Linked DNA regions of Homo sapiens. The protein of the gene in region 1 interacts with the protein of each later gene in a pairwise test. Each region holds a gene or a part of one and is shown on either strand. Other genes may lie near its edges. The genes, in order: LMAN1 and SURF4.

Region 1 (14,590 bases):
ATTCATTGCTGTGACCACTAAGCCTAAAAATAAATCCAAAACAATGCTAACCTAGTAGTTCAGGTTCAGTAAATATTTTTTGACTGAAATCATCAAAAGTGTATATTTTTGGTTTTAGTGACACATAATTACCTTATAGTGTGGAGATAATCCTTAAAATCTATCAAAACTGTTGTGAAAGTAATGTGACATATCTGCTTCTCCTCCCCATACTACTCGATAGAATCCTGGACTGTATACTTGAAAATTATAAAATACTAGTCTAACCCAATGTTATTAAGAACGTGAGTGTGCTAATGTCAAAAATAAAACATTTTAAGGCCAAATTGAGGGAATTTATATTATCTGCTAGCTTTTTATCTGAATTGTTCCCAGTCAGCATAAGTGATCAAAGGTGTACTTAATAAAGGCTGTGGCTAGCATTTGAACTCTATGTAGTATGCAGTTCTCTTAATGATCAACAGTATGAGTCAGACTTAATGAATTTAAAAATGAAACATAAAGGTCATTCTTATTTTGAATTTGTTTTAAACATCATCACATAAAATTTGTGAGTATATCCTGAAGCTGACTTTAGTGTTTGAAAAGTATTGTTTAGTAAATTTTGACAAATGTGTATACCCATTTAACCATCACCCCGATCAGTACACGGAACATTTTTATCATCCCAGAAAGTTCCCTCATGCCTCCTTAAAGTCAACAACCTTCTCCACAGAGCCCATCACTATTCTTATTGTTATCACTGTAGATTAGTTCTGCCTATTCTTATAAGTAGAATCACACAGTGTAATGAAAGAGAAATATTTTTCCATTTTAATTTTATTTAACTTTTTATGTATTTAGGAAGAGTACAAGTGCAGATTTCTTATATGCTTGTGTCATATAGTGGTGAAGTCTGGGGTTTTAGTGTACTCTCACCCTAATGAACCTGGTACTCAGTGGGTAATTTTCAACCTTCATTCCCCTCCCACCTTTTGTAGTCTCCAGTGTCCGTTATTCCACTCCATTTGTCCATGTGTACCCATTGTTTAGCTTTTACTTATAAGTGAGAATGTATGGTATTTGACTTTCTAAGTCATTTCACTTGGGATAATCACTTCCAGTTCCATCCATGTTGCTGCAAAAGACATAATTTCATTCTTATTTTATGGCTGAGTAGTAGTCTATAGTATATACATACATATATACACACACACACGCCACATTTTCTTTATCAAGTTCTCTGTTGATGGGCATTTAGGTTGATTCCATATCTTTGCTATTGTAAATAGGGCTGCAATAAACGTATAAGTGCAAGTATCTTTTTGATATAATGATTTCTTTCCCTTTGGGTAAACACCCAGTAGTGGGATTGCTGGATCAAACGGTAATTCTAATTTTAGTTCTTTGAGAATTCTCCATACTGTTTTCCATGAAGGTTGTACTAATTTACATTCCCACCAACAGCATATAAGCATTCCCTCTTCTCCACATCTTGACAACATCTGTTGTCTTTTGACTTTTTAATAATGGCCATTGTGACTTGTGTAAGATAGTATCTCATTGTGGTTTTAATTTGGATTTTTTTGATGATTAGTGATGTTGAGCATTTCTTCATTTATTTGTTGGCCACTTGCGTGTCTTCTTTTGAAAAATGTCTGTTCATGCTCTTTGCCCAGTTTTTTAATGGGCTTTTTGTTTTTCTCTTGAGTTGTTTGAGTTCCTTGTAGATTCTGGATATTAGCCCTTCGTTGGATGCATAGTTTGCAAATATTTTTTCCCATTCTGTAGGTTAGATTATTGTGTTGATTGTTTCTTTTGCTGTGTAGAAGCTTTTTAGTTTAAGTCCCATTTGTCTATTTTTGTTTTTCTTGTGTTTGCCTTTGAGGACTTGGTCTAAGTTCTTTACCTAGGCCAATATGCAGAAGAGTCTTTCCTCAGTTTTCTTTTAGGATTTGTATGGTTTCATGTGTTATGTTTAGGTCTTTAATCCATCTTGAGTTAATTTTTGCATATGGTGAGAAGTATGGGTCCACTTGCATTCTTCTATATATAGCTATTCAATTTTTTCTGCACCGTTTATTGAATAGGATGTCCTTTCCCCAGTGTTTATTTTTGTTGACTTTGTTGAGGATCAGTTGATTGTAGGTATGTGGGTTTATTTCCTGGTCCTCTGTTCTGTTCCACTGACTTATGTGTCTGTTTTTATACCAGTATTATGCTGGTTTGGTTACTTTAGCCTTGTAGTATAATTTGAAGTCAGGTAATGTGATGCCTCCAGATTTATTCCTTTTGCTTAGCATTGCTTTGGCTATTTGGGCTCCCTTTTTTTTCCATATGAGTTTTAGGATTTTTTTTTTCTAATTCTGTGAAAAATGACATTGGTAATTTGATTGGGAGTGTCTAGAACTAGTAGATAGTTTTGGGCAGTATGGTCATTTTAACAATATTGATTCTTCCAATTCATGAGCATGGGATACTTTTCCATTTGTTTGTGTCATCTACCATTTCTCTCATCGTTGTTTTGAAGTTCTCCTTATGGAGAGCTTTCCCCTTCTTGGTTAAATATATTTCTAGGTGTTTTTTTTTTTTTTTAGCTGTTGTAAATGGAATTGCCTTCTAGATTTGGTCTGCTAGATCATTATCAGTATATGAAAATGCTACCGATTTCTGTACATTAATTTTTTATCTTGAAACATTACTGAATTCATTTATCAAATCTAAGAGTTTTTTGGTGGAGTCATTAGGATTTTTGAGATATAAGATCATATCATTAGCAAACAGGGATAATGTTACTTACTCATTTCCAGTTTGGATGCCTTTTATTTTTTTCTCTTGCCTGATTGCTCTGGTGAAGACTTCTAGTATTATGTTATTACACGTAAGAGTGATAAAAGTGGCATCCTTGTCTTGTTCCAGTTCTTAAAGGGAATGTTTTCAACTTTTCCCTGTTAAGTGTGAGGTTGGCTGTGGGTTTGTCATATGTGGCCTAATGTTGAGGTGTGTTCATTGAGGATTTTTATCATGAAGGGATGATGAATTTTATTGAATGTCCTTTCTGAGTCTGTTGAAATGATCATGTGTTTTGTTCTTAATTCTGTTTATGTGGTGTATCATATATATGGATTTTTATATGTTGAACCCTCCTTGCATCCCTGGGATAAATCCCACCTTGATCGTGCTGTATTATCTTTTTGATGTGCTGTAGGATTCATTTTGCTGGTATTCTGTAGAGGATTTTTGCATCTTTGTTCATCAGGGATATGGGTCTGTAGTTTTCTATTTTTTTGTGTCCTTGTCTGGTTTTGGTATCAGGGTGATACCGCCCTCATAGGATGAGTTAGGGGGAATTCTCTCCTCAGTGTTTTGGAATAATTTCAGGAGAATTGGTTCTTCTTGATATGTTTGATAGAATTCAGCTATAAGTCCATCTAGTCCCGGCTGTTGTTAAGAGATTTTTTTTTTTACTACTGATTCAGTCTTGCTACTCATTATTGATCTGTTCAGGAGTTCTGTTTCTTCCTGTTTCAGTCTCAGAAAGTTGTGTGTTTCCAGGAACTTATCCATTTCCTCTAGGTTTTCTAGTTTGTGAGCATATAGGTGTTCAAATAGTTTCTGACGATCTTTTGTGTATTTGTGGAATCTGTTGTAATGTCTCCTTCTTTTCTGATTGTGTTTATTTGGATCGTCTCTCTTCTTTTCTTGCCTAGTCTAGCTAGTGGTTTATCAATTTTGTTTATCTTTTCAAGGAAGCAACTTTTTGTTTTGTTGATCCTTTATTAATTTTTTTGGTCTCTATTTCATTTAGCTTTGCTCTTATGTTTGTTATTTCTTTTCTTTGCTAACTTTGGGTTTGGTTTGTTCTTGTTTTTCTAGTTTGCAGAGGAATAATGTTAGATTGTTTGCGATCTTTCCACTTTCTGATGTGGCATTTAATGCTGTAAACTGCCCTCTTCACACTGCTTTTTTCAGTTTTGGTTTGGTGTTTCCATTTTCATTCATTTCAAGAAATTTTTACATTTGTGTCTTAATTTCTTCATTGACAAAGTGAATGTTCAGGAGCATGCTGTTTAATTTCCATGTGTTTGTTTAGTTTCTTAAGTTCCTCTTAGTATTGATTTCTAGATTCATTCCATTGTGGTCTAAGACACTTGATATGATTCTGATTTTCAAAAATTTGCTAAGACTTATTTTGTGGCCTAATATGTAGTCCTGTGTCGGAGAGTCTTCTATGTGCTGGTGAAAAGAATGTATATTCCATAGTTATTGTAGAAAGTTCTGTAAATGTCTAAGTCCATTTGGTCTAAAGTCCAATTTAAGCCCAATGTTTCTTTGTTATTTTTCTGTCTCGATCTATCTAGTGTTGTGTGTGTGGTGTTAAATTCTCCCACTATTATTGTATTACTGTTTTTCTCTTTCTTTAGGTCTCGTAATAATTGTTTTCTGAATTTTGATGCTCTAATGTTGGGTGCATATAAATTAGGATTGTTATATCCTCTTGGTGAATTGATCCCTTTATCATTATATAATAACCTTCTTTGTCTTTTCTTTTTTAAGTCTGTTTTATCTCATATAAGTACAGCTACTCCTCTCACTTTTGGTTTCCATTTGCTTGGACTATTATTTTCCACCTCTTTACTTTCAGTCTATGTGTGTCTTTATGAATAACCTAAGTTTCTTGTAGGCAGTATATAGTTGTGCCATGTATTTTAATCCATTCTGCCAGTCTGTATCTTTTAGTGGAACATTTAATCCATCTGCATTCAAGGTTAATATTGATATATGAGGCTTTGTTCTTGTCATATTGTTCATTATTTTCAAGTTGTCTTATAAATTCTTTGTTCCTTTCTTTTTTCCATCTTTGTCTTTGTCATTTGATGAAATTCTGTCATGTTGCCATTTGATTCTTACATCTTCCTCCCCTCTGTGATTGTTTTATAAGAACTTTTATTTTATATTTCTGTTTTTATCATGGTGAATATTGCCCTTTTGTTTCCATGTTTAAGACCGCTTTGAGCATTTCCTGTCATGCTGGTCTGGTAATGACGGATTTCCCCAGCATTTGCTTGTCTGGGAAAGGCTTTATTTCTTCTTCATTTGTGAAGCTGATTCTAGCAGGATATAAAATTCTTGGCTGACAGTTTTTTTTTTTCTTTTATTAGCACTTTGAGAATGCCCATTCCTTTCTGGCCTGTAAAGCTTCTGCTGAAAAGTCTGCTGTTAATCTGATGGAATTTCCATTATAAGTGACTAAATACTTCTCTCTTGCTAATTTTAAAATTATTTCACATTGACTTTAGACATTCTGAATACAATATGCTGTAGTGAAACCCTTTTTGCAATATATTTTTCTGGGGATTGCTGGGCCTCCTGTATCTGGACATCTAACTCTTTTGCTAGACTTGGGAAGCTCTCATCAATTATTTTCTTAGTTATTCTCCTTAGCCAGACAACAACTGCAGCCATATGAACTTGAACTCGGACTAAGGATAGGGCACAGCCCAGCATGAAACTCTCAAAATTGTGCCTTGTGCCTGGGACCAGGGAGAGCAGGGCCCTTCCTAGTCAGGTGTCATGAGCAAGAAGCTGTAAGGAGTGCAGTCTGCTCACATCTCAGTTTCACAAGAGCCCATTGCAGGGCAGTGGGTATTGTCCTAGATATGCATAGGAGAGCCTGTTTCCTGTCTCTCCTTGGCCAGGTGGTAGCTACAGCCTTGTCAGCCCAAACATAGCCTGAGGGTGGGGCACAACCCTCCATTAAACTCTCAGTGTTTCACCTTGGGTCTGGGACCAGAGAGGGTAGGGTCCCTTCCAGGCAAGCAGCATGGGCAAGAAGCTGTGGGGAGTGCTGTCTACTCATGTCTCAGTATCAGCAGCACCCTTCAGCAAGGCAGGAGGGACCTTCCTAGGGGTGCATGGGAGTGACCAGTGTCCCCCCTTCTCTCCTTGGAACATTGCAGCGACTGCAGCCATGTCTGTAGATCCCCAGTATCTAGGCTATCAACAGTGGTGCCCAACTGGAGCTGTTGTAGGCTCAAATGCCTGTGGGATTCCATGTGGTTTCCCTTTATGGAGCAACATCTCTGTGCAATATTTAGGCAGTTCCATATGTCCAGCCCACAGCCCTAGTGGGTCAGAGGTTTCTCCTGTAGCCAGGATCATAAAAGCCCATTTTGGACTGCAGGGCCCTGGGGTTTTCTCTCTTACTGTTTCCCATCATCTAGGAGCCCTTCTGGTGCTCAGTCAGCTCCTGGCTGGGCAAGCTGCCTCAAACTCTCTCCTTATTTTGGTGCTTCCCATTTCTTCTCTGATGAATCCTAGCATTCTCTCCTAGGCAATCTATTTGAAATGCAAGTATCTACTTACTACTCTGGTTTTTCTCCGTGGAGGAGGTACATACTACTTGCATCTGGTTAGCCATTTTGATCCCTCCTGAGATTATCCAAGAAAAATTGTTTTTAAATAAAAAAATTTAAACCCAGTTTATAATAAGTGTTCAATCACCTGAAATGGCAGAAAACAAATAATTTAATCATTATTGAATTAATTATTTGCATATTTTCTGTTTGGGAGATTGTACCACTGTGATGGTGATGTCCTAATTTTGCTGAATGTTGGCACTTTGGTCACTTACGTTATTTCAAAAACTACATATGTGTAGGTGACTCTGATCATTTTTATTTATTTCCTTTTCAGCGGAGGAAATATTTGAGAGTGTAGGAGATCGAGAGCTAAGACAAGTCTTTGAAGGACAGAATCGTATTCATCTTGAAATCAAGCAGCTGAACCGGCAGTTAGATATGATTCTTGATGAACAGAGAAGATATGTCTCTTCCTTAACAGAGGAAATCTCTAAAAGAGGAGCAGGAATGCCTGGGCAGCATGGGCAGGTGGGCTTGCAGAATATGCAGATGTGCCCCATTTACCCTTTGCTGGAAGGGAAGTAAAGAAGAAGGGCAACTGTACTATGTGCTCATAGAATGTGGATTATTCAGCTTGCTCGTCATTGTTTCTTCCTCCAGATTACTCAACAAGAACTGGATACTGTTGTGAAAACTCAGCATGAGATTCTGAGACAAGTAAATGAAATGAAGTAAGTATGGAAAAGTAGCGTTTGTGTGTTATGTGATTTTTTTTATCCTAAATTTGTGACTTCAGGTGTGCAAGCACTGTATTGCAAGATTTCTGCATGAGGGTAAGAATCCCGTTCTAGATTCATTTTACAAATAGGGGACCATAAATACAGCAACTTTTAATATTCAAAAACTGCAAACATGTCTAAAGTTTTTAATTGTTTAGAGCTGGAAAAGAAAAAATGTTTTGGCATCTTTTAAAGAGATTTGTCAGTTACTTGACAGAGCCAGGTGTGTTCTTATATTTATAAAATATAAAAAGAATATGAAATAATATATAACACTTTTATGAAAAGTACTAGAGGAATAAATATGTGTAGCATTGTAAGACTATAATACAAGCAGACCTGATGCAGGAAATTCTTTTTGATGGAATGAAACCATTTTGAACGTAATATGTGTGACTACCTCTTTTTCATTCCCATCTTTTACTCTCAGAGAGACTGGACAGAGTTGGAGCAGAGAGGAGATAATTGTGTCCTTAGAATGTTGAACAATAAATTTCTAATGAGAATGATTGACTTATGCAGATAATTAATAGCTTTCAATGCCTGGAGCAGAGATAACAAACCATAGTGTCATGTTTCCATAACCTAACATTTCAGAGCACTGTCCCAACCGATAGAACCCTTGACAAACAAGAATGTCAAGGTGAGTTCTTTAGGACTGGAGAATTAAACAAGGTTAGATCAAACAGAAGGTGATTATACCTGATGTCTAGAGATTAAAGGCACTTAACTTATAACTGCAAATTTATATTTCTTCAATTTTTCTCTTTGCATTTTAAAAAATCTTCATAATCTGAACTCATGATTGAAATATTTATGATGCTAGATGAATAGTTTAGCTCTTCAAATAGTTTAGTTAAATGAATAGAATCCTTTTAGAAATAGACTGGATCATGTAACGCAACCTTTTTAAAAATCTTTTTATTTCGATCTAATTTTAGACCTCAGAAGCTACAGAAATAGTATGGGAAGTTTCTATACATTCTTCACCCATCTTTCTCTAATTTATATAACCATGGTTTAATTGTCAGAACCAGGAAATTAACATTGATACAATTCAATCAACTAAATTAATGACCTATTCAAAATTTATCAGTTTCTCCACCAAGGCCTATTCTATTCCAGGATCCCATCCACAATCGCACATTACATTTAGTTATTTTTTCTCTTTAGCCTTCTGCAGTCTGCAGTAGTTCATCTTCCCTTGTCTTTCATGACCTTGACATTTTCCAAGAGCATTAATCAGTTAATACCTTTTGATTTGGGTTTGGTTGGATGGAAGTTCCACATTTTGATAAGAAGATATTATATATTATAATATGTTATATAATATAATTATATATATTATTATATAAGATTGGTAAGATATTACTGATGATGTTGGCTGTGATCACTCGGTTATGGTGGTTTCCTATTGCTATCTCTACTTTAAAGTTACTGTATTTCCCTTTGTGGTTAGTATTTTGGAGAAGGTACTTTGAGACTATGTAAGTATCCATTTCAACCTTCTGCTCATTCATTTTAGCATCCATTGATGTTTCTTGCCTGTAACAAGAAAGTGGTTTTTGCCAAATGCTGATTTTTTTTTAATTTTTATTTTTATGTATTTATTTATTTATTTTTTTGAGACAGGGTCTAGCTCTGTTGCCCAGGCTGGAGTGCAGTAGTGCAATCACAGCTCTCTGCAGCCTCAACCTCCTGGGCTCAAATGATCCTCCCATCTCAGCCTCCTGAGTAGCTGGGACTACAGGTACATGCCACCACACCCAGCTAATTTTTCTATTTTTTTTGGAGTTGGGATTTTGCCATGTTGCCCAGGCTGATCTCAAACTCCTGGGCTCAAGCAGTCCTCCTGCCTCTGCCTCCCATAGTGTTGGGATTACAGGCGTGAGCCACCACGCCTGGCCCCGATGTTTATATTTCGAAATAATTCCCTCCATATTTGTTCATTGGAATTCTGCTGTCAGGACCAACTATCTTTTCTCTCCCATTTATTTATTTAGTTATTTATTTAGATCAGTTCAGACTCATGGATACTTATTCCATAGGTTACAGTCCAACACTCTCCTTATTTATTTTGCTGCTCAAATTGTTTCAGGTATGGTCATTCTGAGCTCCTTCATGTTGGCATCTTTGTTCTCTCAACAAGCCCTCATCTTTTTTTGAGCATTTTAAAAATTTATGGTACTGCTCTATCTTCTAGGGTCATCTTGTATTTTCTCTGCCCTCAGTGAGCCCTGGTTCCTTTTTCTTGAGAAAGGTATTTGAAAACCAACCTTTGGGCACTAGGTATGCTCATTACTACCGCGGTGCCGTTACCTCTAGGCCTCTTACTGGACAGAGCTAGGGAATATACATATGTATACCAACCCATGCATGTACATGAGTCTGTAGTTCCGTGTCTGTCAACCTACTCTTGTGTTAAACCATGAGATTATGCAGATATTTTGGATTCTGGCTGGACTGAACACTACAGAGTTAATTTTTAACTTTCCCCCTTGTCTTATTTGAAAATTCTTCCTCCAACAGGGAAAAACCTGGTTCTTATTATCTGTATCTATAACATATTTACTTATTGGTTTCACTTGAGTATGCATATAAGTACACACAAAGTGGTTTCAAATTGTTAGCTCGTATCCCTGTGAGAAAGACATTTACTGACAAGTTTATGTAAAGTTCCTTTTATCTCTAGCTTTACAGTATCCAGCCCAGATACTCTTTTCCAGATAGTTTCTTAGTGTAGTTCTCTTTTTCCCTACTCTTTTCATTATGGCTGATATTACTCATTTAGGATCCAGCTAGATTCTTTGTTAATGTTTATATTCCTCCTATATCCTGGTTGATTTAAATTGTTTGTATTTTGGGTATATGAATACTATGGTTCTAAGGGGCAGAGCATGTGTATATCGCTTCTTCATCCTTGCTACCACTTTCCCATCCTCCCCTTCTTTCCAGCTGTTTCCCACCCATTCCCTCTTGGTAACCAATTCTGTTAGCTTCCGGTTTGTTCTTCCTGTATTTCTTCTGCATATACGTATTTTCTTTTTCTTTTCTTTCTTTTTTTTTTTTTCTTTTGAGATGGAGTTTTGCTCTTGTTGCCTAGGCTGGAGTACACTGGTGCAATCTTGGCTCACCGCAACCTCTGCCTCCTGGGTTCATGCGATTCTTCTGCCTCAGCCTCCCGCCTAGCTGGGATTACAGGCACCTGACACCATGCCTGGCTACTTTTGTATTTTTAGTAGAGATGGGGTTTCTCCATGTTGGCCAGGCTGGTCTCGAACTCCTGACCTCAGGTGATCCACGCGCCTTGGCCTCCTAATGTGCTGGGATTACAGGTGTTAGCCACTGCACCCAGCCCATATTTTCTGAAGTCCCTTTCTTTCTTATGTGACGGGTAGCATATTCTAGATACTCTTTTGTGCTTTGCATGTTTTACTTAACAGTAGTACTAGGACATCTAAAGATGTAACTAGTTGTCAGGACGTCCTAGCTGTCCAGTTGTATTATCCATAGAATCCCTTTCTTAGAGGAGTTAACAATCCTTGCAAACTCCCACTTACTGAGAATAAATGTCATGCATACAGTAAGTTAATATAAAAACTGAGCTCAAGTTTCTGAACTAGTGCTCTGGAACTTTTTCTTTAGGATTTAGCTTCAAAAAAAAAATGTAAAGAGATAGAAAATATTTGCCTTTAATGGAAAGGGTAGTTTGTTTCTTTGTGGATTTTTATATTCTTAAGGAATCAAAGAAATTTTTTTTAGCAGAAAGAGATCTTAGAAAGCATGTAGCTTTTCTGTAGCAGTTGATGCCTCTTCCCACTTCTCCATCTCAAAACTTCCCTTTTAAGATTTCTGATACACCATTCACTCCTGGTATTCTTTGGCCTCTGCTTCCATTTAGTTATCTTCACTTGCTCTCCTTCCATCGTCCCTTAAAAGGTATTCTTTTCAAGCGTTCTGTCCAGCCCTCTTTTCACTTGACCTGTTTCCTAAACCAACTATGACCTCCTTCAACCACAATTCTATCCCCATAGGCTCCTCTTCATTTTTTGACACTCAGCTAAATGCATCTTTCTTTGTAGAGCTCTAGTCGTGCTTCTGTCACGTTGCTTTCCTGCTAGACAATTCATCTCCACAGGGCAGATATTTCATTCTTCTTGCAAAGTTTATATCCCTAATATTCCCTGGCTCACAGCACTTATGAAATAAATGTTAGCAGAATGAACAGGCAAATGAATGAATGACTGAGTAGGAGCAAATTAAGTGACTCAATCTTTGGTATATTAAAAAGACATTTATACCTAAGCAAGTTCATGCTTCTGGGAAGCAGAATTTCTTAAATACAAATATGTGACAACGTTACATACTCTGTGAGGTTTTGGTCTTGGTATTATTTTAGTTATATTAAAATGTTATGCTTAATTTGAGTTTAAGTGGAAAAGCTTAGCCCCACAGGAATTTTCTTGAGCATATGTGCCATTGAAAGAAATTTTAATCAACACGTGACATTGATTCAAAAGCACTTGAGATATTTTGTAACTACTTTTAAGTCTTCACTGCTCATGTAACTCAAACATAATTTTTTAAATGTTATACTTAACATTCTGTCTGACATATAGTGTTATTTTTAAGTAATTTGAGTCTCTTTTTTTTTTTTCTTTTGGTAAAGCTCTTACTTTTTAAACTACATTTGACTCCAGTGAAATAACTTATTTATTTATTCCTCCAAATTGAACCATAACTGTTGAATGCACTCGTAGGAAATCAGAATTGTGACCCCTGTCCTCAGGGTCACAAAGCCATTAGCCTCCTACTATATGCTGTATGAGTGAAATCATCTATATGTGCAGCTACAAAGCGGACAAGTCTGTGTGTGTGTGAGTGTGCCTATAGGAAATGATTGCGTTTGGCACTAGTCCTTTACTGTACAGCTGAACACCTAGAAAGATTTATTATAACTTCATTAAAAATATCATCCATTATATTCAATATCCACTTATACTATTGGTTTTAACACAGATTACCTAGTAGTATTTTCTACATGGTATTTTTAGATGACCTTTAGTAAAATATAAAGGCATAATGTCGTTTTATAAATTATTTTCCAATTTTGAACACAACTCGATTTTTAAAGATACTTTACCTGTTTTTTTTTTTAAATGATGTAATATATTAGACTTGAAAAGTAAAAGTATTGGAGATCTGTGACTGAAAAAAAAAAACTTTATAGTGATTTTATTGTATCAAGAGACTTTCTGTTTCAGAAATTCCATGAGTGAAACCGTCAGACTGGTCAGTGGAATGCAGCACCCTGGCTCTGCTGGAGGCGTCTATGAGACAACACAGCACTTCATTGACATCAAAGAGCACCTGCACATAGTAAAGAGGGACATAGATAACTTAGTGCAGCGAAATATGGTAACTTTGTTTCCTTTTCCTTTTATAATTATAATCTTTAGGAAAGGAAGAACTCATACTCTACTGCAAGTATTTTAACCCTTTAGTTAATGCTAATGCTTATTTTTAATGTTTAAGGTAGAATTGTCCCATTTATTGCAGATCTCCATGTGTCCTGGTTTTCTAGTTATTGAAGGTGGAAGAACAGTTCCCATAGCAGTCATGGTTTTTTAATATGTAATATTTATATTATCATTTCGTGAAAATATTTTCTGATTTCCATGTTAATGTCTTCTCTGACCCATGGATTGCTTAAAGTGTATTTCTTTGGCCTATTTTTCCGTCAAGGTTCTAATCTGGTAATTTCTTGCTATCTTGTTAGCTTCATTTACCTTCACCCAGGTTTCGTGTGCTTGGATTGGATTAGATATGTTTTTGACTCTGCTGGTTGTCTTCTATAAGACATATTTGGGATATGGTTGGCCCATATTTCCTAGTCTGCTTTACCAGAAGCAGAAATCCCAATCCCTTATATTTTATATCGCGTTTTATCTTTTTAAAAGCTTTTTAAAACGTTTGATGACCTTTAGAAAATATACTAATAGATTAATAATAATGTTACATTAAACTGACTCTCCCAAGGTCAGTAGCTAGTAAGTAGGAAAGGGAGAAAACTTAGGTCTTCAGCTTCTAATCTTGTCTCCTTTATATTTTTTGATAACTCTCTTAACTATATTCCTGTATATATGCCTTGAATATACATTTTTTTCAAAGATGGCTTAATAGTTTTCTTATTGATCATGACCTCTCATCCAAAGCATTATTATCTGTCCCCTTAGTTCTGTTTGAGGTTATTTTTCTCGTACATTGTCTTTGTTGCAATGACCAAATTGATACTGTGTGTATCAATTTACTGAAGAACTTTGTCCCACAAATATAACTATATTGGGAACAACTAATCTTAGAAGCCATTCTCTCTGGGTACTTGGATGAAGTCTTTGTTCCTGGTATTTAATTGCCTCCTTATAATAGAAGGAATACTCAGGGAAATAGGGAAAGAAATATTTTTCAGAACACCAGTGAATAATGTTGAATGATATGAGATTGTAGAGAATGAGGACTGAGAAAAAGCCAGTCTGTTTGTCAAGTAGTTCATTGGTAGGGTAACCATGTAATTTATTGTCTGACCTGGGACACTTTTGAGAATGAAGGGGTGCTAATAATCACACCACTACAGCAAGCGTGAACTGGGAGTATCCAGAGGAGTTGTCTGTGGTGACGCTAGTCTCAGTGACCTCAGGGACAGCAACATCATCATATACTGTAATGCAGACAGGAGCCAGGAGGCAGTGAGTTAGTGACTGGGTAGTAAAAAGGTGGAGGCCTTCCAGTGTCAACTACTCCTTCAAAAACAGTTGTCAGTAAAAGTTAAGGGGATAGAAGGTTTTCTGGGGGATGAAAAAATGAAAATACTTGTTTATATAGCAAACAGTTTTATAAAGATTTCACATTTATTTCTTTTTCCAAACTGCTATTTTGACTAACTGTAATAGAAAGTCATTTGCCTTACAGCCATCAAATGAAAAGCCGAAATGCCCAGAACTACCACCATTTCCATCATGTTTGTCTACGGTCCACTTCATTATATTTGTTGTGGTGCAAACTGTATTATTCATTGGTTATATCATGTATAGGTAAGTCTCTTGATAAAATGTGACCCAATATTTTTCTGCATCTGTTTAATTAGAAATATTCAACTAAGTTATCTATGTTCATAATACAATTTTCACCACCTATAAAATTAAGTTTATTGTGATTTCTGTTCATTTCAGTTCACATAAAGTGCACGTGTAGAATATATGTTTATCTTAATGCGTTGTATACTTCAAAAGGCATTGATATTTTAATTTTAAATAGTCCTGTTTCTTTCCAAAGTTAAGCGTATAGAACTTCTTTAAGTGTTTGTTTCTTTTTTTCATTAGGTCTCAGCAAGAAGCAGCTGCCAAAAAATTCTTTTGACTACCATTTTCCTGTGTACTTCATCTATTTGTGTACAAAATGATGTCGTTTTGA
Region 2 (15,238 bases), on another chromosome or scaffold:
CCACACTCCATCCACACCAAGCTACTTGGACTTTCCCAAAAGCTGCACTTGTCCCCTGGCCACTGCACACATGGACCCCTCTGCTTGGACCACTACCCACCCCCTTCATAGGGATAACTATGCACCCTTTAGGGCTCAGCTCAGACCCATTTCCTCTGAGGACCCTGCCCTGGCCAGAGCCCCAGCAGACCAGGTCAGGGCCCCCAATTCTGTGCTCCCTCCCATAGGGAAATGTCCTCTTGGCTTCTCTGCACCCTCCTTGAGAGCATTAGGGGGTGCTCAGAAAATCTTTGGGAGTGCATGCAGTGAGGTCCCCTCCCCAAGACCCGCTGGAGCAGAGGGAGCGTGTGAGGGGCCTTTCCTGCTCGGACCCGGGATTGTTGGCCCCAGGTGGGAACACCAGTGTGGACATCTCATGCAGGCTGGCGCCTGGCAGAAGGCTTCTCAGCCTCTCTTTACCTCCAGCACCCCTTGTGCCTGCTCAGCCTCCCGCTGTCTGCCTCAGTCCCATCAGAAGTGACTGGAAAGCTCCTGGCTCCTTGTAAAGACAAGAAGTCATCCAGCCTACAGGACCCGGCTGCTGGACCTGAGTCTCCGTCCCCAGTCAGCTGTTTACTAGCTGTGTGGCCTTGGAGAGCTCCTGAACCGGAGCCCTAGGCCCCATCAGGAGCACAGGGACAGTACTTCCTGCCCTGCAGCCCTCCTGGCACGTGATGACGGATGTGGTGCTGGTCAGTAAGCTGCACAGGGGCTGCAGGAGTAAGGGGCGCACAGGCCCAGGACGGCACCGGTGTCGGGTGGCTGTGGAGACGGAGGTCAACTAGCTCCTTCCATGAAAGTAAAAACTCTGTCATCAGAGGCACAGGCTCACCAGGACAAGCTCGTTGGCTGCGTGCAGAGCCCGGGAGTCAGGCCCATCTGGCCTGGCCCTCTGGCTTGGCCACGTACTAGCTGGGTAACCTGGAGCAACTTGTTTCTGTTAGCCTCTGTTTCTTCTTCTGTCAAATGGGTTAAGAACCCCTCCTGGTCAGGCGTGGTGGCTCACGCCTCTAATCCCAGCACTTTGGGAGGCCGAGGCGGGCGGATCACTTAAGGTCAGGAGTTCAACACCAGCCCAGCCAACATGGTGAAACCCCGTCTCTACTAAAAATACAAAAATTAGCCGGGCATCATGGCACGCGCCTGTAATCCTGGCTACTCGGGAGGCTGAGGCAAGAAAATCTCTTGAACCCGGGAGGCAGAGGTTGCAGTGAGCCAAGATCACACCATTACACTCCAGCCTGGGGGACAAGAGCGAGACTTTGTCCAAAAAAAAAAAAAACTCTCCTGACGATGAGGTTTTTGGGGCTCCTATGAGACTATGCACCGAAAGCCCCCAGCATGGTACCTGGCCCCAGTGAGTGTTAGGTCAGGGGTGGCCACGTTTACAGTCACTGCCATTGCCACACGAGCTATTCTGACAGTGGGGGGTGGGCGTGCTCTGGGCTCAGTCTGCTTGGTCCTGCAGCCCACTGCGTGGCGGCTGAGCCCGTAGGTGTCAGCTCTGACCCACCTCCCCATTCCACGTGATGAACAGCTCCTGGTACACAGAGATGTGGGCGTGCCGCAGCTTCAGCAGTGGCATCAGCTGCCAGGATAGAGCAGAGGAAACGGAGAAGTCAGTGCCTCTCCACGCCTTTCTCAGCTCGGGCTTCTCTGTCACACATCCCAACAAACATGCAAGCCTCGGGCTCTGAGCTGGGCCAGGGAGTGGGCTCAGGGAAGCTGCACGGTGGTTGGGAGCCAGGCAGTCCGATGTGGGTCCTGTCTCCAGCATGAGCTGGCTGTGCTGGGTGACTGGGCCTCATATAGTCATCTGAAAATGGGGGTCCTAGTGGAATCTGCCTCACAGGGATACCATGGGGGGTGAGTGAGCTGTGGCAGGCAGTGCCAGGAAGGTGGGGATCAGCCACAGCCAGGGCTGGCTGGAGGAGGTGGTGCAGACACCGGGAGGTGGGCACACGGAGAGGTCCCGGTGCCCCTGCCCTGGCGGAAAGTGCTTTGAAACATGCCCAAACAGGAGCAGATAGGGCTGCCTTAGAGACATGGAGCCAGACAGACAACTGCTTGGGGTGGAAGGTTGGGCATGAAAGCAGGTGGCCTACCTAGTGGGCTGTGGATGGGAATCGGCAACGTGAAAAGCCACGGCGGCGTGCGGCTCTGGGCAGGCCCCATGCTCTTTCTTCCCATTTGTTACCGAGTAGCCTGGGCCCACCACTGTGCTTCGGTCACACTATACACCCAATAATGTTTGCTGGCCAAGCTCCAGAGCCAGCAATTCCAGAAGACAAACAAGTGACCATGAGATAAGAGGGGACACCTTCAAGCTCGTGGGAAATTCAAGAAACACAAAGAAAGGCTACTCGGAGGCTTTGCCAATCAAACCGAAGTGCAGCTGTTATCGCTATTATTGTAAACGAGTATGTTACTGCTGGGCAGCTCTCAATGGTAGAATTAAGGGTAATTTATATTTGTTTTGTTAAACAGTTCTGGTATGGGTGTGGTGGTACATGCCTGTACCCCAGCACTTTGGAGGCCGAGGTGGGACGATTGCTTGAGCCCAGAAATTCAGACTAGCCTGGGCAAAATGGTGAGACCCCATTGCTATTAAAGAAAAAAAAAAAAAGGTAAAAACAAAAGAAAACCCAATTCTGTATTTTTAAAATTTTCTGCTGTAATTAATAATTTTATATTGAAGAAAAAATATTTAAAGAAGTTATTGGTAGATTAACCTAGGGACCCGGCCAATATTTATTTATTTTTGAGACAAAGTTTTGCTCTGTCACCCAGGGTGGAATGCAATGGTGCAATCTCGGCTCATTGCAATCTCCGCCTCCCAGGTTCAAGTGATTCTCCCGCCTCAACCTCTCGAAGTAGCTGGGATTACAGGTGCCCACCACCATGCCCAGCTAATTTTTTTGTATTTTTGGTTGAGACAGGGTTTCCCCATGTTGGCTAGGCTGGTCTTGAACTCCTGACCTCAAGTGATCCACCCGCCTCGGCCTCCCAAAGTGGTGGGATTACAAATGTGAGCCACCGTGCCCAGCCCAATATTTAAATTTTATGTTCTCTGGGAACATATGTTCTAAGTTGTCGGCACCTGCATTTAGCAGTGAGTGTTTGGGGCATGGACTCCCTTCATGACCTGGGGCTGCTGGCTTCACAGCTGAGGCAAAACTGGTGCTGATGCTCTATCCCTCCCTCCAGCCTTCTCTTCATCCAGGCACTCAACAAGAAGGTACAGAACACAGTCTGTGTATGCTCCATTGAGCTCTTCCAGAGGGAAAACTACCCTGAGAGTTACCTCCTCCAGGGCCTGACTGGCGTAATGGTCATCCATGCATTCCACCTGCAAGGGCACAAGAGCATGAGCTTAATAAACATGTAGCAAATCATCTCCGTTATCACCGCCATCACCACCACCACAACGACCATTACCATCATCTGCACAGCCACCACCTCCACCACAACCATCACCATCATTACCACAACCACAACCAACACCACCATCACTGTCACCATCATCACCATCACCATCATCACCATCACTGCCATCATCACCATCATCACACCACCACCACTACCATTACCACCATCACTCCATCACCACCACCATCAACACTATCATCACCATCATTAACATCATCATTACCACCTTCATCACCACCATCACCATCACTGCCATCATCACCATCATCACCATCACCACCATCATCACCATCACACCACCACCATTACCACCATCACTCCATCACCACCACCATCACCACTATCATCACCATCATTACCATCATCATCATATATCATCACCATCATTACCATCATTACCATCATCACTGCCATCACCATCATTACCATCATCACCATCACCATCACCACCATCATCACACCACCACCATTACCACCATCACATCATCACACCACCACCATTACCACCATCACTCCAACACCACCACCATCACCATCATCACTATCATCACCATCACCACCATCATTACCAAAATCACCATCACACCATCATCACCATCATCACACAATCATCACCATCATCAAAATCATTACCATCACCACCTTAACCATCATCACACCATCACCACCACCACCACTATCATTACCACCATCACACCATCAACACCACCGTCACCATCACCACTATTATCCCCATCATCACCAACCTCATCACCATCATTACCACCATCACCATCACACCACGACCACCATCATCATCACACCATCACCACCATCACACCATCAACACCACTGTCACCACCACCACTATTATCCCCATCATCACCACCATCACCAACATCATCACCATCATTACCACCATCACCATCACACCACCACCATCATCACACCATCACCACCATCAAACCATCAATGCCACTGTCACCATCGTCACTATCATCACCATCATTACCATCATCACCACCATCATCACCATCATTACCATCATCATTACCACCATCACACCATCAACACCACTGTCACCATCCCCACTATTATCATCACCATCACCACCATCACCATTACTATCATCACCATCACACCACCACCACCATCATCACATCATCACCACGACCATAATCACCATGACCACCATCACCATCATCACACCATCACCATGACCACCATCACCATCATCACACCATCACCACCATCACCATTATCATCACCATCATCATCACCATCATCACTGCCACCACCATCACCACCACTACCACCATCATTGCCACCTCCATCATCACCACCATCATCACTATTTAGCAGGAGTGACAGGCTCCCACCATTCCTGCCCCCACCATATGGCACAAATGGAAGATATTCCTAAGGCAGAGATCTAAAAATACTTAGAGCAATGAGAACATCTTTGCTCCTTTTGCAAAGATAAGTTTAGGACAGCATAATATACGCTCCAAGAACTCAGTAAAGGATCCATTTTCAGACCGTCTTTAAACAGGAACATCTTGTTCTGGTTGGGAAAGCATCAATCTCACCACTTCATTCCTTACCCACATGGGGAAGGTTGTCTCCACGCATGGAATGTACAGTGCTCTTCTCTCCTGTGCCCTCTCCGGGTGGAGGTGGGGAGGGCATGGAAAGGGAAGGGTGGTGGCAAGGGCAGCACGGAGCTTTGAGTCTGCAGCACGCTTGGTGGCACAGGCCCTAGGTATATACTACCACTGGCTCTAATACCAGATCCTCACCCAGAATTTTGCTCAAAAGACTTATGAATGAAGTACTCTTATAATGGGGTGAATGCAGACCATCATGTAAAGTTAGTGAATTGTTCCCAGATCTATGGAGAGACCTGAGATGCCAGTGGCACTGTCCCGTGGAATCCAGGGCAAAGACACTGAGTGAGCCTTCCTGTCTTCCTTTCCTCCTGTCCTAGGGGGCATATGAGGAGGTGAAGTTGGCCAAAACATGGAAAGACTTGAAAATGTTACATTGTGGCCGGGCACAGTGGCTCACGCCTGAAATCCCAGCACTTAGGGAGGCCGAGGCAGGCGGATCACCTGAGGTTGGGAGTTCGAGACCAGCCTGACCAATATGGAGAAACCCTGTCTCTACTAAAAATACAAAATTAGCCGGGCGTGGTGGCACATGCCTGTAATCCCAGCTACTTCGGAGGCTGAGGCAGGAGAATCACTTGAACCTGGGAGAAGGGGGTTGCAGTGTGCCGAGATCACGCCATTGTACTCCAGCCTGGGCAACAAGAGTGAGACTCCGTCTCAAAAAAAAAAAAAAAAAGCGGCTGGGTGGGGTGGCTCACGCCTGTAATCCCAGCACTTTGGGAGGCCGAGGCAGGCGGATCATCTGAGGTCGGGAGTTCGAGACCAGCCTGACCATCCTCTCCATGTTGATGGAGAAACCCCGTCTACTAAAAATACAAAATTAGCTGGATGTGGTGGCACGTGCCTGTAATCCCAGCCACTCAGGAAGGCTGAGGCAGGAAAATCGCTTGAATCCGGGAGGCAGAGGTTACAGTGAGCTGAGATCACACCACTGTACTCCAGCCTGGGCAACAAGAGCAAAACTCCATCTCAAAAAAAAAAAAAAAAAAAAAAAAGTTACATCGTATGACCCAGAAATCTCACTCCTAGGAATTTTTCCTAAGGAAATCATGGATGCTAAACAAAACAAAACAAAACAAAACAAAAAAACAAACAAAACCATAATGCCATAAGCATCTTTATCAGAGCTGTTTACACAAAGTGAAAAATTGAGAACAAGCTCAATGCTCAGCCCATGTGATAGGGATGGCTTGGGTTAGTTACAGCACATCAAGCAAGACGGGAGGCCACACAGTTGCCAGAGCCAAGAGAGGAGGAGGCTGTGGGAATGACATGAAACTATGTTTGCAATATAAAAAGGATGCTATCAACTTTAACGATACCATTCTCCTGAATCCAAAAAAGTTTACAAACGCTTAGGAAAAAAGACTGGAAGAACCCATAAACTCCTACCTACACTCTCTTTCCCCAATTTTTATTTAGAAATAATTGGGTGATATTTTTATTTTTAATTTAATTAATTAATTAATTAATTTAGACAGAGTCTCGCTGTGTCACCCAGGCTGGAGTGCAGTGGCGCAATCTCGACTCACTGCAACCTCCGCCGCCCGGGTTCAAGCAATTCTCCCGCGTCAGCTCCCAAGTAGCTGGGACTATAGGCACCCACCACCATGCTCAGCTAATTTTTGTATTTTTAGTAGAGATGGGGTTTCACCATGTTGGCCAGGCTGCTCTCAAACTTCTGACCTCAAGGGATCTGCCTGCCTCGGCCTCCCAAAATGCTGCGATTACAGGGATGAGCCACCATGCCTAGTCATGGCTGACATTTTTAAAAGCTCCTCAGGCCGGACGCGGTGGCTCATGCCTGTAATCCCAGCACTTTGGGAGGCCGAGGCGGGCGGACTGCCTGAGCTCAGGAGTTCCAGGAGTTCGAGACCAGCCTGGGCAACACGGTGAAACCCTGTCTCTACTAAAATACAAAAAATTAGCCGGGCGTGGCAGCGTGTGCCTGTAGTCCCAGCTACTTGGGAGGCTGAGGCAGGAAAATTGCTTGAACCCAGGAGGCAGAGGTTGCAGTGAGCTGAGATCACACCACTGCACTCTAGCCTTGGCGACAGAGCAAGACTCCATCTCCAAACAAAAAAAAAAGCTCCTTAACTGCTCAGAGGGCAGTCAGCCACACTGCCCCAGTGGCTTGTGAGACAAGGGGGCCAACCCCACAGCCAGCCAGCAAGGGAGCAGGGCAGGGGCAAGGACTCCAGGCCCAGCCATACAGGGTGAGACTGCGGAGCTGTACGGACTGAGGCCTGGCCCAGTAGCAGCTGCTGACAAGGCTCCTCCCGCTGTATGGCCAGCCCTGAACCTGCTGGGTCCCTGCCACCACCACAGAGAGGAGGGCATGCCAGGGACTCTTGCAGCAGCTTTCTCACCCTAGTCCCTCTGTTGATCTGGACCTCCCTGTCTCGGACACACAAAGGGCTGTCTTCCTGCAGGCCTACACCTCCCCATGCCCTGCTAGCCCTGGTGAGGAGTGTGGTGGAAGGGCTCAGGGCCTGGTGTGTGACCTTAGCCCTGTGTGACCTTGAGCCAGTCCCCATCCTCTCTGGGCCTGGCTCCCTTTTGGTAAAACTGGTGACCCAGCACTGGGTAGCACGGTGTCCCCCAGTGAGGTGGCCTGAATTCAAATCCTCTTGGAAATTGTGTGACCTTGCCTAGTCTGGCGCTGCATTGAGCCTCACTGTCTTTGGCTATAAACAGGGTCATTGTTTCTGCTTTACAGGGTTGACGGGAGATGAAGTGAGTCAGTGCCTGGCATACAGCACGTGATGCGTAAATGGTGGGAGGTGGTGGTGTTGGAGTAAAAATTAGCATTGCTTCCCCATCAAGGTGACAGAGCTTCACGCACCCCCACATCTACCCCAACCAGATTAGTCTCCGCAAGTGTCAGCAGCGAGGAATCCAGCTGCCGCATCAGGAAGCTTCTCCAACATGGGAAGAGCTTGTATTGGGGAAAATCACAGTCACAGAACCACCCGGCATGGGATGCACAGGCTTGGCCTCTTACCTGCTTTATCACATGCTTGACTTTGGTTTCCATTTCCTCCACCACCAGGTTCACCCCCAAGGCCCCAGGATTCAGCTGGTACAAAACCTATCAGCAAGGAAGAGAGAAGCTTTCAGGAAATGCACACAACTTTTCCCTTTCCAAAAGCCCAGCTCCAACTCCTTTTCTGGCCCTGCTAACTCCCCTGTCAGGCTGGCAGAGCAAGTGGCTCCACCCCATCTTGCAATAGAGGAAATGGCCCAAGGAGGGCAAGAAGCCTTTCAATGGCAGAACTCTGATCTCACCTATTTGGGGCCGATTCTGGAGCTCTTCTACAACCCTGTATCCCTCCCCCAACCTGCAATGAGGACCAGCTGGGCACTCAAGTGCAAGAACCTCCCAGAGAAAAAGGGCTTATTCACTCTCTATAGACCTCTGTGACCTCAACTTCCAGCATCCACCTCCCAACTGGTTTCCAACAAGAAAGTAACCAATCTTGTGACTGGTACAATCAGGAAGCCATTGTGTGCCTGGCATGGTGCCAAGCACTTCACAGCCACCCTTTGCAGTTGACACCATTGCTACCTCTGTGTTTACATTGGGGAAAACTGAGGCACAAGGAGCTAGGTCCTTGCCTGAGGCTATGTCACTAGAAAGCAGGACACTGCCTGGGGTAACTCTGGGGGTCTGATCTTAGAGCCTGTGATTTGAGCCAAATCTGGAGAGATGGCCACCAAGCCAGAACTCTGTGCAGAGACCAAGTGCTATGGGGCAGGGGGCTGGGCCGGGGATTGCTGGAGGCTGACATTCATCAGAGGATTGGGGGAGGGAGGGCAGGACCCAGAGGAGGAGATATGAGGATGGAAGCCTGAGCCTAGGGACTCTCGGAGCCCATAAAAGTCTTAGGAGTCTGTAATCCAGCCTTGTGAGCAGCCTGCTCATGACACTGGATATTCTAAGCCAGGGGTCCCCAACCTAGTCCGTGGCCTGTTAGGAACCAGGCTGCACAGCAGGAGGTGAGCAGCAGGCAGTGGAGCAAAGCTTCATCTGTATTTACAGCCGCTCCCCATGGCTCGCATTACCACCCAAGCTCCACCTCCTGTCAGCTCAGCAGCAGCATTAGATTCTCATGGGAGTGTGAACCCTATTGTGAACAGTGCATGTGAGGGATCCAGGTTGCATGCTCCTTATGAGAAACAAATGCCTGATGATCCGTCACTGTCTCCCATCATCCCGAGAGGATGGTCTAGTTGCAAGAAAACAAGCTCAGGGCTCCCACTGATTCTACATTATGGTGAGTTGTGTAATTATTTCATTATGTATTACAACATAATAATAGAAATGAACTGCACACTAAGTGTAATGTGCTTGAATCATCCCAAAACCATCCTCCCGCCTCCATCTGTGGAAAAATTGTCTTCCACAAAACTGGTCCCTTGTGCCAAAAAGGTTGGGGACTGCTATTTTTTTTTTTCTTTCTGAGACAGAGTTTTGCTCTTGTTGCCCAGGCTGGAGTCCAATGGCGCTATCTTGGCTCACCACAACCTCTGCCTCCTGGGTTCAAGCGATTCTCCAGCCTCAGCCTCCCGAGTAGCTGTGATTACAGGCATGCGCCACCACACCTGGCTAATTTTGTATTTTTAGTAGAGACAGTTTCTCCATGTTGGTCAGGCTGGTCTTGAACTCCCGATCTCAGGTGATCCGCCCGCCTTGGCCTCCCAAAGTGTTGGGGATTACAGGCGTGAGCCACCGAGCCCGGCCAGGGACTGCTGTTCTAAGCCACAGCGGGCTGAGGGCAGAGCTGGTGTGAGAGCGTTCAAGCTTAGGCAGCAAATTAAACAGTAAAATGGAGCCGTATCTCGAATCAAGTCTATTTTTTTTTCCAAAAGCAGGTATATTCCTGAAACGTCTATTTTTTTTTAATCTGAAAAACAACTTTACTTTAAAAATTATCTGGCCACCAGAAGCTCATCTGCTTCACCTCTGGCAACGCCCTATAGTCCTCTCACACAAAGACAATTCTTCCAAAGTGACAAAAATCTAACCCGCAAACTGTTTCCAAGCGAATGCATTTTTCACAAATGCTGAATCTAACATTTAATAAAGTGTATATATCATGTATAGAAGCATTTAATTAAACATTTACTTTTATTTTGCAGCTTTCCTTTTGTGTTTTGTGAATTTTTTAGGTCTCAAACATTTTCACAGACCCACGCTGCAGGGGTGTTTTTAGGGGACTGGGGGCTCCCAATTATGTACTCGGGATGTTCCCGGGGGTCCTGCCTCGGTGGACCCAAGCGCACAGACCCCAGGCACGAAGGATAGAGGAGCTGCCCCACGCCCTCAAATACTCAGCCAGGGCTGGAGAATCCTTAGTCAATTCACAAAGGGGGAAACTGAGTGGCAAAGGGCACCCAGGAGGTCACCGTTGGAGGCCCCCCGGGTTCAACCTAGGAGCTGCAGGCCGACACTGGCCAGGGCGCGGGCCCCTCGCCGCCCTCGGTCGGAACCGCCGGCCGTAGCTCCAGGGTTGCGACCGTTACCCCACGGAGCTCCCGCCTCCCCGCAGGGAACACTCGGCACCTGGTACTTCTCCATGGGCTCTCCGGGGGACCCTGGGCCTCGCTCCCCCTGCGTGGGGCGCCTGCGATTGGACCCTGGCCCAAGCATGATCAGTAGCGACCGCGTACGGGCGAGCGTCCACCCCTGGCCCCACCCCGCGTGGGTCAGTGGGACCCGCGGGATCCTCCCCGCCCGAACGGCGCCCTCGAGGCACTCAGGCGTCCCTCCCGCGCGCTGGCCCCAGACCCCCAGGTCCCCGCCCCCTTAAAAGGGACGCGTTCCGCCGGGCCGGGAGGGACCGCAGGGCCTGCGCGCGGCGGGCGGGGCCTCCAGCGTGAGAGGCGTGGCGTCGAGCGCGGCGGGCGTGGCTTCGAGCGGATGGGTCGGGAGGCTGGGGATGGCGCGTGGCCCCTTTAAGACGCACCGGGGCGGGCCCGGGCGGCGCGCGGCCCCTTTAAGGCTTGGCCTACGTGGCAGCCGCTGGAGCCGCAGCCGACGCGGAGCGAGGCCGGCCGCCGGGCACTTCCTGTGGAGGCCGCAGCGGGTGCGGGCGCCGACGGGCGAGAGCCAGCGAGCGAGCGAGCGAGCCGAGCCGAGCCTCCCGCCGTCGCCATGGGCCAGAACGACCTGATGGGCACGGCCGAGGACTTCGCCGACCAGGTGCGGCCTGCGGGCTCCTCCCCCGGCCCCGGTCCCGACCCAGGCCGCCCGGGCCGCTCCGGAGTCGGCCTCCCAGCGCAGGGCGCCAGGCCCGGGCCGCCCCCTGACTCCTTGTTCCCACAGGGGGACCCCCCCGCCCGGGCCCTCTGTCCCGGCTGGACAGCCCCAAACCCGGCCTCCGGGCCCAGTCTCCCCTGCCCGCTGGGCCGCTCCCGGAGCCCGGGCCTCGGCGCCCTGCCTGGCTAGCCGCCCCCACCCTCCAGCCAGCCCGGGGCGCGGGCTGTGGGGGTTTCTTCCCGGGCCGGCGGCGCGAGTCCTGGCGTTGGGTCGGGTCTGAGGCTCGCGGGGAGCGCCTCGGCGTTTGGAGCTGCTGGGGGGTCCCCGCACGTTTTTCCTCTCACTGGGGCTCCCGGAGGCGGGCTGGGAGCTCGGGGACGAACGGGGGCCGGGGGTCCTCCCAGAGGAAAGGGGGCGCGCTGGCGTGCGCCCCAGCTACAGGAAGCCACAGCACCTTTTCCTTTTCTCTTTCCCAGATGTGCTGGACTCTTGGGGTCCCTTTGACCCTGTCTGCGTCTCCCTCCCCGTTTGGACTCTGCCCTGGGCTGGATTGAGTGGGGACCTGTACACAGCCTGGGAGGAGGGGAAGCCTATCTCCCTGATAGTCTCCTTCCAGAAGTGTCCAGGTGGCATTCTGAGCAACAGGGAAGCCTTTGAAACAGGCGGTTGGGTAACTGTTGAGAGCATTCGGGAACTGGGTGGACAGGATCCGATCCTACAAAGTGAAGGGACACAACTCCCTTCCCTCTTTCTTGATTAAGCTTGACAGAACAAAAAAACAAAAACAAAAGGTGGTGGTGGTTACGCAGATTTATGCCTTTTACTTCTAAAAGAATCCCGTTATGTCGACAAATTAACAGCCTTATCCCCGCAGGGAGAGCCTTGTGTGGCCCACTTGCCGTTTTTTCCTCGGTTTACTTAATGTGTTCGTGTGGCTTTGCTAGAGTTTTAAGTAGTGATGGTTAAATTTTTAAATTTTTCTGGAGGTGGTAGTGAGTCATCAAACTCTGAGGCCTAGACTTATCGGAAGGCTTGTATATGTGTGGTTTAAAAAAAAAAGAAAAGAGTAAGTGACCGTTTTCTGATCAGCTATTGAACTCTTCCGTTCCTCCTGGGGGGTGATCTCTTTCTAGTGTGACCTCACCATCGGTTCTCATTGCAACACTTTCTGTGAGCCAATATTTTAAATTTGGAGGGAAAAAGTAATCAACTTGACGAAGCATTTTTTCCCTAAGATTCTGATTTTGTGCTTAAAGACACAATTTTATTTGTTTATTTATTTTTATTTATTTATTTTTTCTTTGAGATGGTGTTTTGACCTTGTTGCCCAGGCTGGAGTGCAATGGTGTGATCTCAGCACACCACAACCTCCAACTCCTGGGTTCAAGCGATTCTCCTGCCTCAGCCTCCCGAGTAGCTGGGATTACAGGCATGCACCGTCACACCCAGCCAATTTTGTATTTTTTTTTTTTTTAGTAGAAACAGGGTTTCTCCATGTTGGTCAGGCTGGTCTCGAACTCCCGACCTCAGGTGGTCTGCCCACCTCAGCCTCCCAAAGTGCTGGGATTACAGGCGTGAGCCACGGCACCCAGCCTTTAAAGACACAATTTTAAAAACAATTCATATCAAAAGCTCTCAAGAACCAGGTAGACCTTTTAGGTTTGTCAGTTTTCATTGACATAATTTATAGTGACCCATTTATATTTCTCCAAGTCGCAGCTCCCTAAGAAGATGGCTCCTCATAGCTGAGGGAAGGATGAGAGCTACATACACTCGCTCTTTGTCCTGGAAAACCTGGATTTGCAAGTGAATTTCATAACCAAATCTAGATCAAATGTCTCCAGTCAAGCTGCTGCCCACTAGCAAATGACAGACTCCCCTATTGACAAAAAAAAGTTCCCAGTGTCTTCACATACTGTTTTCTTCTTCTTTTTTTTTTTTTTTTTTTTTTTTTTGAGACAGAATTTCGCTCAGGCTGGAGTGTAATGGTGCGATCTCGGCTCACTGCAACCCCCGCCTCCCGGATTCAAGCAATTCTCCTGCCTCAGCCCGAAGTAGCTGGGATTACAGGCGCCTGCCACCACGCCCAGCTAATTTTTTTGTATTTTTAGTTGAGACGGGGTTTCCCCATGTTGGCCAGGCTGGTTTCGAACTCCCGACCTCAGGTGGTCCGCCTGCCTTAGCCTCCCAAAGTGCTGGGATTACAGGCGTGAGCCACCCTGCCCTGCCTTTTCTTCATGTTTTGTTATTATGTTTTTTTTGGAGACAGAGTCTTACTTTGTCACCCAGGCTGGAGTGCAGTGGCGCAATCTCATCTCACTGCAACCTCCGCCTCCCGGGTTCAAGCTATTCTCCTGCCTCAGCCTCCTCAGTAGCTGAGATGACAGGCCCACGCCACCACGCCCCGCTAATTTTTGTGTTTTTAGTAGAGACAGCATTTTGCCATGTTGTCATGTTGTCCAGGCTGGTCTCAAACACCTGACCTTAGGTGATCCGCCTTGGCCTCCTAAAGTTCTGGGATTACATGCCTGAGCCACCGCGCCCAGCCTTCATCATGTATTCTGTTATGTTTTAAATGAAAGAAGCAGTAGCTTGGAACTGGAAAGGCTCTTGAGGGGGCACAGAGTCGACCTCTCCCAGGTTACTGAGGGGAGGCCAAACCTGCTCAGGCTCCTAGACTTGCCTGTGACCAAGACCAAGAAAAGCCGGGTCTTGGTCCCCAGCGCCCCCAGCCCCTGGTGTTGCTCTTCTGGCACAAGTCAAGGGAAGAGCACTAGCGGGTGAAGGGGCTGCTCACATACAAAACCCAAGTGGGTTAGGACCATATCTGTAAGGCACCATATCTGTAAGGCAGCGCAGGCTGCCGCCGTCAGATGATCTCCTTAAGAGTCCGTCTAGGTGGTGGCAGAGCATGGCTGTGGGAGCTTCCATGCCCTTTTGTGGGCAGCTTGGGAGGGCAGCTACTTGTACTCGCCCAAACCCCAATCAGACAGATGCAGGCAAGTAAACAGGGTTCGAAGTCAAAATATGGCTTCTTGTGGACAGAATCTGACCAAGCCCAGGTGGGGCTTTGTTTCTCTTTATTCACATAGTACTTAAAGCTGCCAGACCAGGCTTTTACATGAAAATGACCTAATTTGAAGCCGATAGAGGATTACCATGGAAGTCACTGATCAGATAAAGTGACACATCCATTTTTTCACATCTTCAGAAAACAAGAGCAAAACTGAAGTGACAAGATTTGACCAGAAAGTGTGGGCTGCTGAAAGCAAGACCTAAGTAAGCTTAGTTTCCCAGGCCCAGTGTCTTCCAGTATTATGACAATGACATTAAGTCTTTCACTGGGCCGGGTCCATGATAGACATTCCTTTTGTGAACTTCTTGACTGTAGGAGGTTGGCCAGAGCGTCACCATCTTCAGATGGGCAGAGGGAGGTTGGCTGGCCGCACTGGCTTGTGGTGGCCTGGAGACTGAGTCCGCATCCTGTTACCCCAAAGGCTGGGTTCCTCACTGCTTGGTTGACTGATCTTTCCTTCTGGCCTGCAGAGGCTGGTCCACGGGGACGAGCAGTCTGGTTAGTTTCTGCTGGCAGGCTCCCCACAGTTGCATCTCTTGTCTCTCTGCCTCTGGCATCAAGCTGCTTGCTCTGGCAGCCAGGGACAGTGTCCTCTTGCTCCCAGGAGCCATGCTCTGTAGAAACTGCTGAGACGTGCTCTATGCAGGAGCTTGGCATTTGGAAGCCATGGGAAGGGTCCAGAAACTAATGAACTCAGCAATCCAAACTAATGTCCATGCCTGCAGCTGCTCCTCATTGCCTATTAGACACTCTGTAAAATGTAGCTTCTAAGCAGTTTATACC

Evidence for each region.
Region 2: the proteins of LMAN1 (region 1) and SURF4 interact in binary tests that used the Homo sapiens proteins (3 or more experiments, as listed by UniProt).

The regions. Positions count from the first base shown.
Region 1 is NC_000018.10:59,331,039-59,345,628, reverse strand, and holds part of LMAN1 (protein ERGIC-53 precursor), read left to right. Parts: intron 1-6,675; coding exon 6,676-6,869; intron 6,870-7,001; coding exon 7,002-7,072; intron 7,073-12,384; coding exon 12,385-12,538; intron 12,539-14,089; coding exon 14,090-14,211; intron 14,212-14,499; coding exon 14,500-14,536; 3' UTR 14,537-14,590. UniProt on the Homo sapiens protein: Mannose-specific lectin. May recognize sugar residues of glycoproteins, glycolipids, or glycosylphosphatidyl inositol anchors and may be involved in the sorting or recycling of proteins, lipids, or both.
Region 2 is NC_000009.12:133,372,006-133,387,243, reverse strand, and holds the start of SURF4 (surfeit locus protein 4), read left to right. Parts: upstream 1-11,183; 5' UTR 11,184-11,274; coding exon 11,275-11,322; intron 11,323-11,683; exon of another isoform or gene 11,684-12,445; intron 12,446-13,335; exon of another isoform or gene 13,336-15,238. Other genes in the region: serine/threonine kinase-like domain-containing protein STKLD1, read right to left, coding at 1,553-1,627, 3,344-3,388, 8,122-8,208, 10,684-10,770. UniProt on the Homo sapiens protein: Endoplasmic reticulum cargo receptor that mediates the export of lipoproteins by recruiting cargos into COPII vesicles to facilitate their secretion.